Linked DNA regions of Homo sapiens: region 2 is linked to region 1. Evidence: fine-mapped expression QTL. A gene starts in region 1. The other region holds a variant in brackets. All regions are shown on one strand. Distances are from middle to middle.

The links. PIP is the estimated chance that this variant, and not a neighbour inherited with it, causes the effect.
Region 2: its variant is the best candidate, but not a certain one, in a credible set for the expression of DIRAS3 in lung (TOPMed, PIP 0.52).

Annotation. Positions count from the first base shown.
Region 1 is chr1:68,048,564-68,053,946 of GRCh38, reverse strand. It overlaps DIRAS3 (DIRAS family GTPase 3), which reads left to right and starts at 3,320. Exons shown (of 2, transcript NM_004675.5): 1 at 3,320-3,399. All of the region lies in intron 2 of GNG12-AS1 (GNG12, DIRAS3 and WLS antisense RNA 1), which reads right to left. It also overlaps the pseudogene ARL5AP3.
Region 2 is chr1:67,948,078-67,953,460 of GRCh38, reverse strand. The region is part of intron 1 of GNG12-AS1 (GNG12, DIRAS3 and WLS antisense RNA 1); the gene reads right to left. Among named protein-coding and RNA genes, the nearest start is that of DIRAS3, 100 kb to the left of the region's middle. The variant C/T (reference allele first, on the strand shown) is at 2,623.

The DNA of each region.
Region 1 (5,383 bases):
TCATCTGTTAAAGAAAAGAAGACCAAAATGTAACCACACCCAAGCAGACCTTTATAGAAGTACAATGACTGCCTCCAAGGATTATTTAAATTCCAAAGAAAACTATTTACAAGTTAATATCTGTTGCTCAATCCAATCATTCTCTCACCAATCATTCATTGCCCCTCAATAAATTCCTCTTCTCCTCCCATAATCTGTTTTACCAGAATCCAAGCCCCCCATTCTTTCTGTAATTTCAAGACTAGTGTATAAACTTCTATAACTCATTGAGAAGTTGGGTCTTTATTCTGAAAGCTCCTGTGTATACACATTAAATACATTTGTATGTCTTTTCTCTTACTAATCAATGTGGCCCATGTCAGTGATTTTCCAGCAAATCTTTGGGGGGCTGAGAGCCATAGCCCCCACACCAGTAAACACAGGCAAAAATATATATTGACAATTAGAAAGACGTTTTTAATTTTATTTTATCAACAATTTTAAAACCAATTACTTTTTTAAAGATTAAGTTACATGAACTAAAAAAATTAGGTTAATTACTATGTTTTTGTGTGAGTGCCCATCTATTTAAACCAATCAGATTAACATTTCTTAAGGGATTTTTGGCCTACCACACTGAATTTTATTATGTAGACATAACATACAACATAATACATGTACATATGTGTAAATATATTTAAACAAATATACACATAAAGGTCTTCTAGCTTTTATTTTAGAATTTTAGTTGTGAGATAGTAAAACATATAAACTTGCTGGTTTATAGAGAACAGTTGGATCCAAATTATTTTTCTGGTAAAATGAGATAAAGGCTATGAATCAAATTTTGGTAAAACAGTTTGAGTTAATTACCAGTGCAGGGACCAAAGGGAAACTTCAGTGAAGGCTCACTGAAAAATCAACCTGCAAAAGGCAGATTAATTGGAGAAAAAGCATACAAATGTATTTAATATGTATACATGGGAGCCTGCAGAATGATGACCCAAGCATATAGAGGAAATTGTCTATTTTTAACTTAGGATTAATAAAATATAGACAGCAATGTAGAAATATGATTGGACAGAAAGAGTATGAGCTAATGCCAATAAAATGAGTGGGGAAACCCAGTGAAAAAAGCCAAACTCTGTAAAATATTTAGAGGTTTATTCTGAGCCAAATATGAGTGACCACGGCCTGTGACACAGCATCAGGAGGTCCTGAGAACATGTGTCCAAGGTGTTTGGACTATAGTTTTCTTTTATACATTTTAGGAAGACAGAAGATACAGGCAAAAACATCAGTCAATATATGTAAGGTATACATTGGTTTGACCTGGAAAGCCGGTACATTTTGGAGGAGGAGGGGTTTGGCCAGTGGTGGCAGGAGGGAGGTTGTGGAAGCCAGGGTTCTTGTTACATATGTGAAGCCTGTAATATGCTTCAGAAAGAATAGATGGCATATGTACCTCAAAAGGTAAATGACCTTAAACGGTGTCAGACTCTTAGTTAAATCTCTCCCGGATCAGAGAAAGACCTGGAAAGGGAAGGAGATTGTCCACAGAACACAAATTTCCCTCGCAAAAGATAGCTTTGCACAGGACCATTCCAAAATATGTCAGAAATATATTTTGGGGTAAAATACTTTGATCGCCCTTAGGGCTGCTACCTGTCATGTGATGCTATACCAGAATCAGGTTGGAATTTGTTTTGAGACAGGTTCTCACTTTGTTGCTCAGATTGGAGTACAGTGGCTGTGATCACGGCTCACTGCAGCCTCGATCTCCTTGATGTGGGAGGCTCAAGTGATCCTCCCACATCAGCCTCCCAAATAGCTGGGACTACAGGCGGCCACCACCACACTGGGCTAAATTTTTTTAAAGTAGAGACAAGTTCTCCCCATGTTGCCCAGGCTGGTCTCTAACTCCTGGCCTCAACCTCCTTATTCTCTAGGATTACAGGCGCCAGGCTAGACCTCACAGGTCTTTAGACTTCTACGCACCAGGTACCTGGTAGGGGGAGGGATTATAGTGGCAGAAGAGCAGTACCAGTGGCCCACACCACACACCCTGGCCTCAGCTGGCTGGGGCACACAAAACCAGGTGCTACCGTCAACGACTAGGCCCATAGGGTACTGCTGTCAAAACCTGCTGCCAACAACTTCCACACACTCCCCAAAACGCTCGGTAGGCGGTGGTGCGCAGCTTTCAATGCATCCGCCGCCAGGCGCTCACAGGCAAGGGAGAAAGAAGCCAGACGGAGCTCGGAGATGTGGAGGGCAGACGCAGGCGCATTTGGAAAAGGGACTGGCGGTGGGAGGCGCAGAGGGAAAAAGGAACGACACAATCGGGCTTCCTAGCCGCTGGCGGACCCGATGGGGCGTCCTGCGAGGGTTCGGCGAGGGTTCTGCCAGGATAGTAGCATTGCGCCCAAGGAGTGAGAGGCACCCGGGGCTACTGGAGCCAGACCCTCAACCCGCCCTAGTGGGAGGCGAAGAACAACGAAAGCCTCGTATTCCCATTTCTCTAATGGCTAATGACATTAAAGGTTTTCATATGGTTATTTGCCATCTGCATATCTTCAGTGAAGTGTCTGTTTATGTCTTCTGACTATTTTCTAATTGGATTTTTAAAAATAATTGATTTTTGAGTTATTTACATATTCTAGATACTGGTTGTATGCCAGATATATGGCTTGTAAATATTTTCTCCTAGGTAAACCTTTTCAGTATCGTTACAGGGTCTTTCACAAAGCAAAAGTTTTAAATTTATGGAGTCTAATTCATCAACATTTCTTTTTACCGGTCTTGCCACTAATGTCAATTTAAGAACCTTTTGCCTAGCCTTAGACAATAGTTTGTTGTTTTTTAAAACCGTTTTGTAATTTTACTCGTCACAGTTATATCTAGCCACTTAATTTTTATGTAAGGGTTATTTTTGGCGGGGGGGAATCTATAGATGTCCTGTCTTTTCAGTATCATTTGTGGAAAAGATTATCTGTCCTGCATTAAACTGCTTTTGGACTTTCGTCTAAAATCAGTTGGACCGGTTTTTGTTGGCAAAGTTTTGCCTGAAGCTTATTCCAACAGGTGAGAAAAAGTCCACAGTTTAACAGTTCCTCCCCAACCTGTAACCCCGCCTTGAACTTCTGGACTAGCCCCTCGATTGTTGTAGATGCCAAGCGGACCTCGCGCCGCTCTGCGTTGGGCCAGCCCCTCACAGCTGGTTTCTTACCACGTATTGCGCAAGCGGAATCTATGCCTGTTACCCACACTCCCTGCGCCCCCGCACCCCGCTCCTGTGCGCAAGTCGGAATATAAAACCGCGGAGGAGTGAGCTCTTGGGGTGTCCAGTTGGTTGCCGCGGCAGTCTCTCCGAGCAGCGCATTTGTCTTCTAGGCTGCTTGGTTCGTGCCTCCGAGAAAGGTAAGTCTTTCTTTCGCTTTTTTAGGGGTACTTGAAAACAACAAGTGTCAGACAAAGCAGCAGATGCTGTTGCGCAGTAGAAGTTTATGGGCGAGTTGTCCCTGAAACTGGAACCAGGTCTTTCTTGGCGCGATTACGCAAGAACCACCCGCAGCCCTGCGGGCTCCTGGCAGGTCCTGCAACTGCACTTTGGATAGTCCCGTTGGGAAGCTAGCACTTTTTAATATAGAAGAACGAGGTTTGATAAGTGTGCGAGCTTAAAGGTTGACACAGTGTCCACTATTACAGCTGCGTAGGTAGCTAGTGTTCAGGAAGTAATAGTGGAGTCATGTAGTGTGAAAGTAAGATTGAAATGGGCGAGGAGGGTAGCAGCCGCCACAGCCACCAGAGAGAAACCTGACCTTGCAGGTGCGTGGTGATGTCCATGAGCCAGGCTGGTGCCGCAACAGCAGCGGCGGGACCTTGAGCTCCGCACGGCCGCTGGGTTTGGACGCCCTCTGGTTCCTGGAAACTTTCACCTCCCCCTCAGCCTGAGGCCAGGTGGCCTGGGAAGGTGGAAGGAGTGTGGAGGGGAGTGGGGGGGGGGGTCCACTGCCTGAGAATGAGAATTCTCTTCACATCTGGAAACTTCAGTTATCACGTGTGTCCTTTACCAATTTTTTTTCTTTTATTTTCTTTTTGATAGAGACGGCGGTCTCCCTATGTTACCCAGGCTAGTCTTGAACTCCTGTGCTTAAGCGATCCTCCCACCTTGACTTCCCAAAGTGCTGGAATTACAGGCATGAGCCAATGCGCCCGGCTGCTTTACCAATTTTCTATGAATGAATTTGTACATACATCCCCTAGAGCAGGAAGTAATGTAAAACAGAATAATTAGTAATGCACATTTCCTAATGTGGGATGTTGGTGGCCAAGAGATATTTGGTCTTTACTGGAACTCTTGATACTAACATGGAGTTTATAATAGTTGTGGAGAGTGCAGACAAGGCTAGGATTTCTGTGACTAGAGAACTCTTAGTGCGTGAAGACCTAAGGAAAGCTGGATTGTTGATTTTTGTTAATAAATAAGATGTGAAAGATTGCATCACTGTAGCAGAAATCTCCTAGTTTTTTAAGCTAAATTCTATTAAAGGTCATCATTGCTAAAGGAATTGTGCCCAGGATTTGGATAGCTGATGTCATTACTTAATATTAGATGATATCAACTAACCACATCTCATAGACTGGAATAAAGTGCTAGATTTTACCTGAAAGCTGCAAAAATGAATGGTTTAGATATATGTATGTATTTATTTTATATCAATTTCAAATATTTACTGTATTAACCTCCCTGGCCCCCTTTAATCAAGAATATAAAATCATCTACTTAAATTTTGCCACTTAAGTTTAGAACACTCTTAGAATCACACTATCTTAAAGAAGCCAGACTAGAATTAGAAGCAAGTTAAGTCTGAAGATATAACAACCAGCAACAACATTTTTTTTTTTCAAATGAAAACTCTAATATGGGGTGGGTATGTTGTGTCACACCTGTAATCCCAACACTTTGGGAGGCTGATGCAGGAGGATCACTTGAACACAGGAGTTCAAGACCAGCCTGGACAACATAGCAAAACCCTGTCCCTACAAAAAATAAGAAAATTAGCTGGGCATGGTGTCACATGCCTGTAGTCCCAGCTACTCGGGAGGCTGAGGTGAGAGGATTGATTGATCCCAGGAGGTTGAGGCTGCAGTGAGTCATGATCGCATGACTGCACTCCAACCTGAGGGACAGAGCAAGACCCTGACTCAAAAAAAAAAAACAAAAAAAAAAAAACCACCACCAAAACTCTAATATGGACATATTACTCTCTCATGGGACTTGCACATTCTAAAAAGGGTCCTTTTCCCCAGTACTGGGAGAGTATGTGTTCAACTACGCAGCCAGCAAGACAGGCTAGTTTATATAGGGAGTGTGCTATTCACAAAAAGCCTCTCTTCTCTT
Region 2 (5,383 bases), 100 kb after region 1:
TTCAGAGAGGAATGCGGCCTTCTGGCCCCTTGACTTTAGCCCAGTAAGACCCATTTCAGACTTCTGAACTACATAACTGTAAGATAATACACTTGTGTAATTTTAAGCCACTAAGACTGTGATAATTTGTTGCAGCAGCAATAGAAAACAAAATACATAATCTCTTTCTAGCTGTGCAGTCTAAGAGTTAGTTAAGTTCTCTAAACAGAAGTTTCCTCATATATAATAATAACAATAATAATAATAATAATACTTAACCCTCGGCTGATTGTGAGAAATAAATGAAGAAATGGAAATAAAATGACCAGATTAGTTCTGGACTGAATTGTGTGTTGCCCAAAATTCATATGTTAGAGTCTTTAACCCCCTATACCTCAGAATTTGACTGTACTTGGAGTTAAGGTCTTTAAGGGAGTAATTAAGGTTAAATTAGATCACATGGGTGAGACCCCAATCCAGTATGACTGCTGTCCTTATCAGAAGGAGAACCACCAGAAATACTTGTGCACCAAGAAAAGATCATATGAAGACACAGTAGAAGATGGCCGTCTGCAAGCCAAAGAGAGAGGCCTCAAGAGAAACCAAGCTTGTCAACACCTTGATCTTGGACTTTGAACCTCCAAAACTGTGAGAAAATAAATTTCTGTTGTTAAGGCCCACTCAGTCAGTGGTATTTTGTAGGGAAGCCCTAAAAGACATACAGCTGGTCATACTAGAGAGTCAATAATACTAATTCTTATTATTACTTGTTCCTTCTTAATAAATATGGAAAATAGTACTACTTTGTGGGATTGCATTAAGGAAAACAGGTGATATAAGAAACCTGGGCTCTCCTTTTGGCTCTGAATCCCTGGCAGCAGCATCTTGCCAAGATACACACGTCACATGTGCTCTATGTCTTTTTTTTGTGTTGGTATTTTCTCTCTTTTGGTTAATGATGGTAGATTGAACACATGTGTCTTTCTTCTGATCCTTCAGTCCCATTAAAAATATTTTGAAAGGGATTTTCTTTTAAAGGTATAAACCTTTGAGAACATGAGAGGGAAAAAAAAGCAAAAAAAAAAAAATCTTTGAAGCTGGAAGACAAAAGGATAAAGGGCAACTGACTCAGCAACCTCAGAACATTGAATCCTCAGCCAGCAGTGAGGGAGGCCAAAAGCAAGCTGATAGGGACCTTAGAGATCCAGGACTCCATAATTGGCAGCATCAGGGATCTGTGAAAGTGTGAGGAGATGGGACAGAAGTGGGGGCTGAAAACCACAAGATCGGTTGGAAATCTATTTACAGTGCACTTAGACTCCTGGATAACCTCTATTGCTTCTCAAAGCTGACAAGTGCCCCTTTCCTTGAAACAGAATACAGAAACTGACTCTCTGGAGACAGTGAACCAAATGGACTCTGGATTGGTGGCCATCTAGCCCCCATTCTGGGTGTAGGGCAGGGATAATGTACTGGAAACAGTAAGGTTTGATGAAAATCTACATATTGAATTCTAAGGACTCCTTATTCCCTTCTCCACCAGGTCCTCAGAAGGCTGGCAGTCTCCAGGCTAGATATGGAGCTGGGGATGGGAGACTCAAAGAACAGCCTTCTTTGAGTAACCTAACCAGTCAAAGAGAAAAGACACAGAGATACTGATGTTGCTGATTGTGACCCTTCTGCCATGAAGCCCCCAGCCCCACTCATGCTCTTTCAAGTCTCTGGTTGGCTTTTTAATATCCTTCTCTTAAATACATGCTGACAGCCCAAGATTGGCAGATACTTGAAGAAAGACTCTACCTAAATGATGCAGACCAAAACTAATCAACAGTGAAACAGGGAATTTGTAGAAAACAGAAACCATATAGGAAAAAATAACTTAAAAGAGAAAAGTAACTATCATTAATCTTAGGAAGCTTTTAAAGCATGTTTTTCAGCAACAATGAAGTGGGCATCCTACCTCTTGGTGACCAACCCACCTCCATCTCTCTGATGATGAGCCCAAGTACTGGATGTGTTCAACTTCACTAGTTTAGACAGGGTCTGGAGTGAGATGGTTCTGGGAAGTGGAGGCAGAAAAGCCAATGGTCTTATTCACATGAACCTGGTCCACCAACTACAGCTGCTAAATCAGGGGATGAGATGAACAGAGGATGAGGGCCTGAGCAGCTCAGTTTCCAGACAGCATGGAGGGCTGGCAGTTCTGACTGCTTTATGCATATGCACTTAATTTGCTTCCCTGGTCCTTCTAAGTGGCAACTCATTAACACCTCCAGGCTGAGGGCTCACATTTTATACTCTAGTTGAATATGCAGTAGCATAATGGAATGTCTACTATGGCTGCCTCTCTGGAAAAGCTGCCCTATTTATTCAGCCACCCTGGAGAAAAGTGGCAGATTTTTTCTTGCAGTGGCAAGAAATACCCGTATGCTGCTTTTAAACACCTTGGAGGTTTAACTTTTTAAATGTTATTCATTTATGCTACTTTGTAACATTATATGTTATATTAATGTTACATATGTAATGATACATGATATTGGGAGGACAGATATTATTATTGTCCTCACTTGGCAAATGAGAAAACCAAGATATAGAGATGTACAAATGATTTGCCTGCAGTCACACAGCTCAACAAGGATGAGG[C/T]AGGGAAGTCTACCTTGACTGTAAACCTTGAGTTCTCTCTACCACATCACATAATTATGAATTTACAATTATATTTGCTTGTTTCCATGTGAGTCTAACCCAGTTTAGAACCAGCAGAGGAACAGAAAGATGGTATGGCATTGCTGAGAGTCTGTGAAAGAAGCCATTAAGGTACGGAAAAATTGAGATGTATGACCAATGACATTGAAAACATTAAAAATTTCCTAGAGTGAGATTCTTCTCCAGTAAGAAGCTTGGATGATCTGAGCCCCGGTACTGGGAGTGGGATGCAGAGCTGAGCGCTACAAATGTAGTTATAAGCCGCAGAGTTTCCTTCATCACAGGACACTGATCACGGGAAGTTTGGGGCCGAGTGAGAAATAGGCTTTATCTCTTATGACTACATTCAGCAAGTGGAGAATGATTCTGGGGCAAAGTCCAGGTGCAGCAGGAAAGAGTACCATGATCAATTTGCAGTGTCTGTCGAGGACTCAGGAGGGCTTTGAAAGCTGTGGCTAAGAGTGTGTCATCCCAAGGCAGGAGTCTGTCAGATGCTTCCTCCAGGATGATAGAGCTCTCTGCCCTCCCTCCACTTGCTTAAAAGCAAAACATAGATTTACAAAGGCAAAAGATACCTTGTCCCCTCTCCACCAGGGTGAACACAGGTTAACCACTGAAGACAGCTTTAGACCTTCACCACCTGGAAATGATACCGGAGGGATTTATATTAACAAGCTTTACAAACCAGCCTTTATCTGCCATTTGTTTACCTTTCCGCACATTGCCAGCTGTAGAGATTCAAAGCCCTTTTCCTTTGTCTTGTCACTTCTCTAAAAATGTACTGTTTTTTGAAAATGCTACTTAAGCTGGAATTCAAAGCCACTTCTTCAAGAACTACTCATTCTCTGGGTATCTCTCACATATATGTGACATATGAATGTTAATAAGCTTCTAGTTGTTTTTCTCTTGTTAAGCTGCCTTTTGTAACAGGAGTCTGTTTCATCTGCAAACCTATGGGGGTTACTATTTTTTGCCTACATCACTATCATACTTCTTGTTGTGTGTATGTTAGTGCAGGCATGTGAGGATATGAGTGTTTTGTTGCCTCCTCTTTGCCCCGCTGGTGAAAGAGGGAGTGTTGCCCTAAGACTCTGAGAATAGCCAAGCACACAACACCTGACGTTGGACCCATGCGATTGACAGCAGTTCATTAGTCACATATACTGACAGCCTGGGGTAGAAGGCACTGCATACCCTGCAGGACCACACAGGGGTTATACTCAACAGAATGAACAAACAGGGCTTTGGGAGGCAGGCTGTGTTGTGACAAGGGGGTGAGGTGGCCCCTGATTCCTGTGGGAGGGTGTACTTTGTTGTTTGAATAATTCCATGGGCTGGTAGGGAGGTGAAACCTGTTATTTTAGGTTGAGGGCCAGGTTAATGCAACTGAGCTGGCTGATAGAAGAATCTTCCCTACTGGGTGCAGGGCAAGGGGCACATCTGACAAGAGGAGGGGGACACAAAGTTAGGCCTCCAGGACTCTGTGAGGCTCAAAGATTTCAAGGCAGCTCCAGAAATTTTAAGCCTTCCAATACAGCATGTGTAAAAGGGGGTGAGGGAGATAGTGAGCAAGATGAATAATCCTCGAGAGTTTAGTAGAAAATAAAGAAGGGTAAGCAGATTATTACTTACTATGATAAATGTTAGGGTATGGGAATGTTCCTGTGGGGACCTGTAAGCAGGACATCTAAGATTTGGATTTTGTTTTTGAGGGGATGAGGCCAAGAAAAGTAACATTTTACCAGTGGTGTGCTGGTTGAGAGGAGCTGGCAGTATCCGGGTCTTTCAGACTCCTAAGCCAAGCTCCTCTCTCTGCTATACCAGAATGCCTTCTCCTTCCAGATTTATCACATTTATTAGCACCATGCTTGACACATGGTAGAAATTCAATGAATCTCTTTAGCAGGAATGTATTCCTTAAAGCAAGTCTAAAGGTATGTGGTGAAGCTCAACCAAAGGAAGGCAGGGAAGGTTTAAATCTGTTAGGTTAAGGAAAGGAAGCTAAGAGGCTTTTCTTTTCTTTCCTTTCCTTTTCTTTTCTTTTACTGGACACCTCCTATGTATTTGCAGTCATTCCAGTAGGCACTCAGCAGGGTCTGTAGTTCATTAGGGTCATATTCCACTGGAAAGCACAAACAAAAAAACAACAGAGAACGATGACAAATGGGGATAGGTGCTCTAAGGGAAACTAACTGGTCACAAATATAGAGAAAAGCCGGGGGAGGAGAAGGGGCCCTACTCTGGATTGCATGGGGGAAATGGAGAAAGGTCTTTCTGGGAGGTAAATTTTAAGCAGAGCCCTGAAGTATAAGAAAGACCCTTGAATGTGAAAAGTGGATGGTCCACTGATGCAGGCAGAGGAATTGGAGTGTGTAAGGACTCTGAGGCAATAGAAACTAGAAACATCTGGGAAAATGTGAGACAACTCACATGCCAGGAATGTAGAAAGCAAAGAAGGGAATGGACAAGAAAGAAGCTGCAAAGGTCAGCAGAGATACATAGACCGTGACAAGGAGTTTGGATTTTTTTCTGAATGCAGTGGAAAGGTTGAAGGATTGTAAGCAGAGGCAGTCCATAGTCTAATTTACATTCTAACAAGATCACTCTGGCTGGCATTGAGATAGACATATTATAAGTGGAGGAAGGACAAAGACAGTAGCAAGCAACTGGTGAGGAGGGTGTTAAAGTTAAGGCAAGAGAT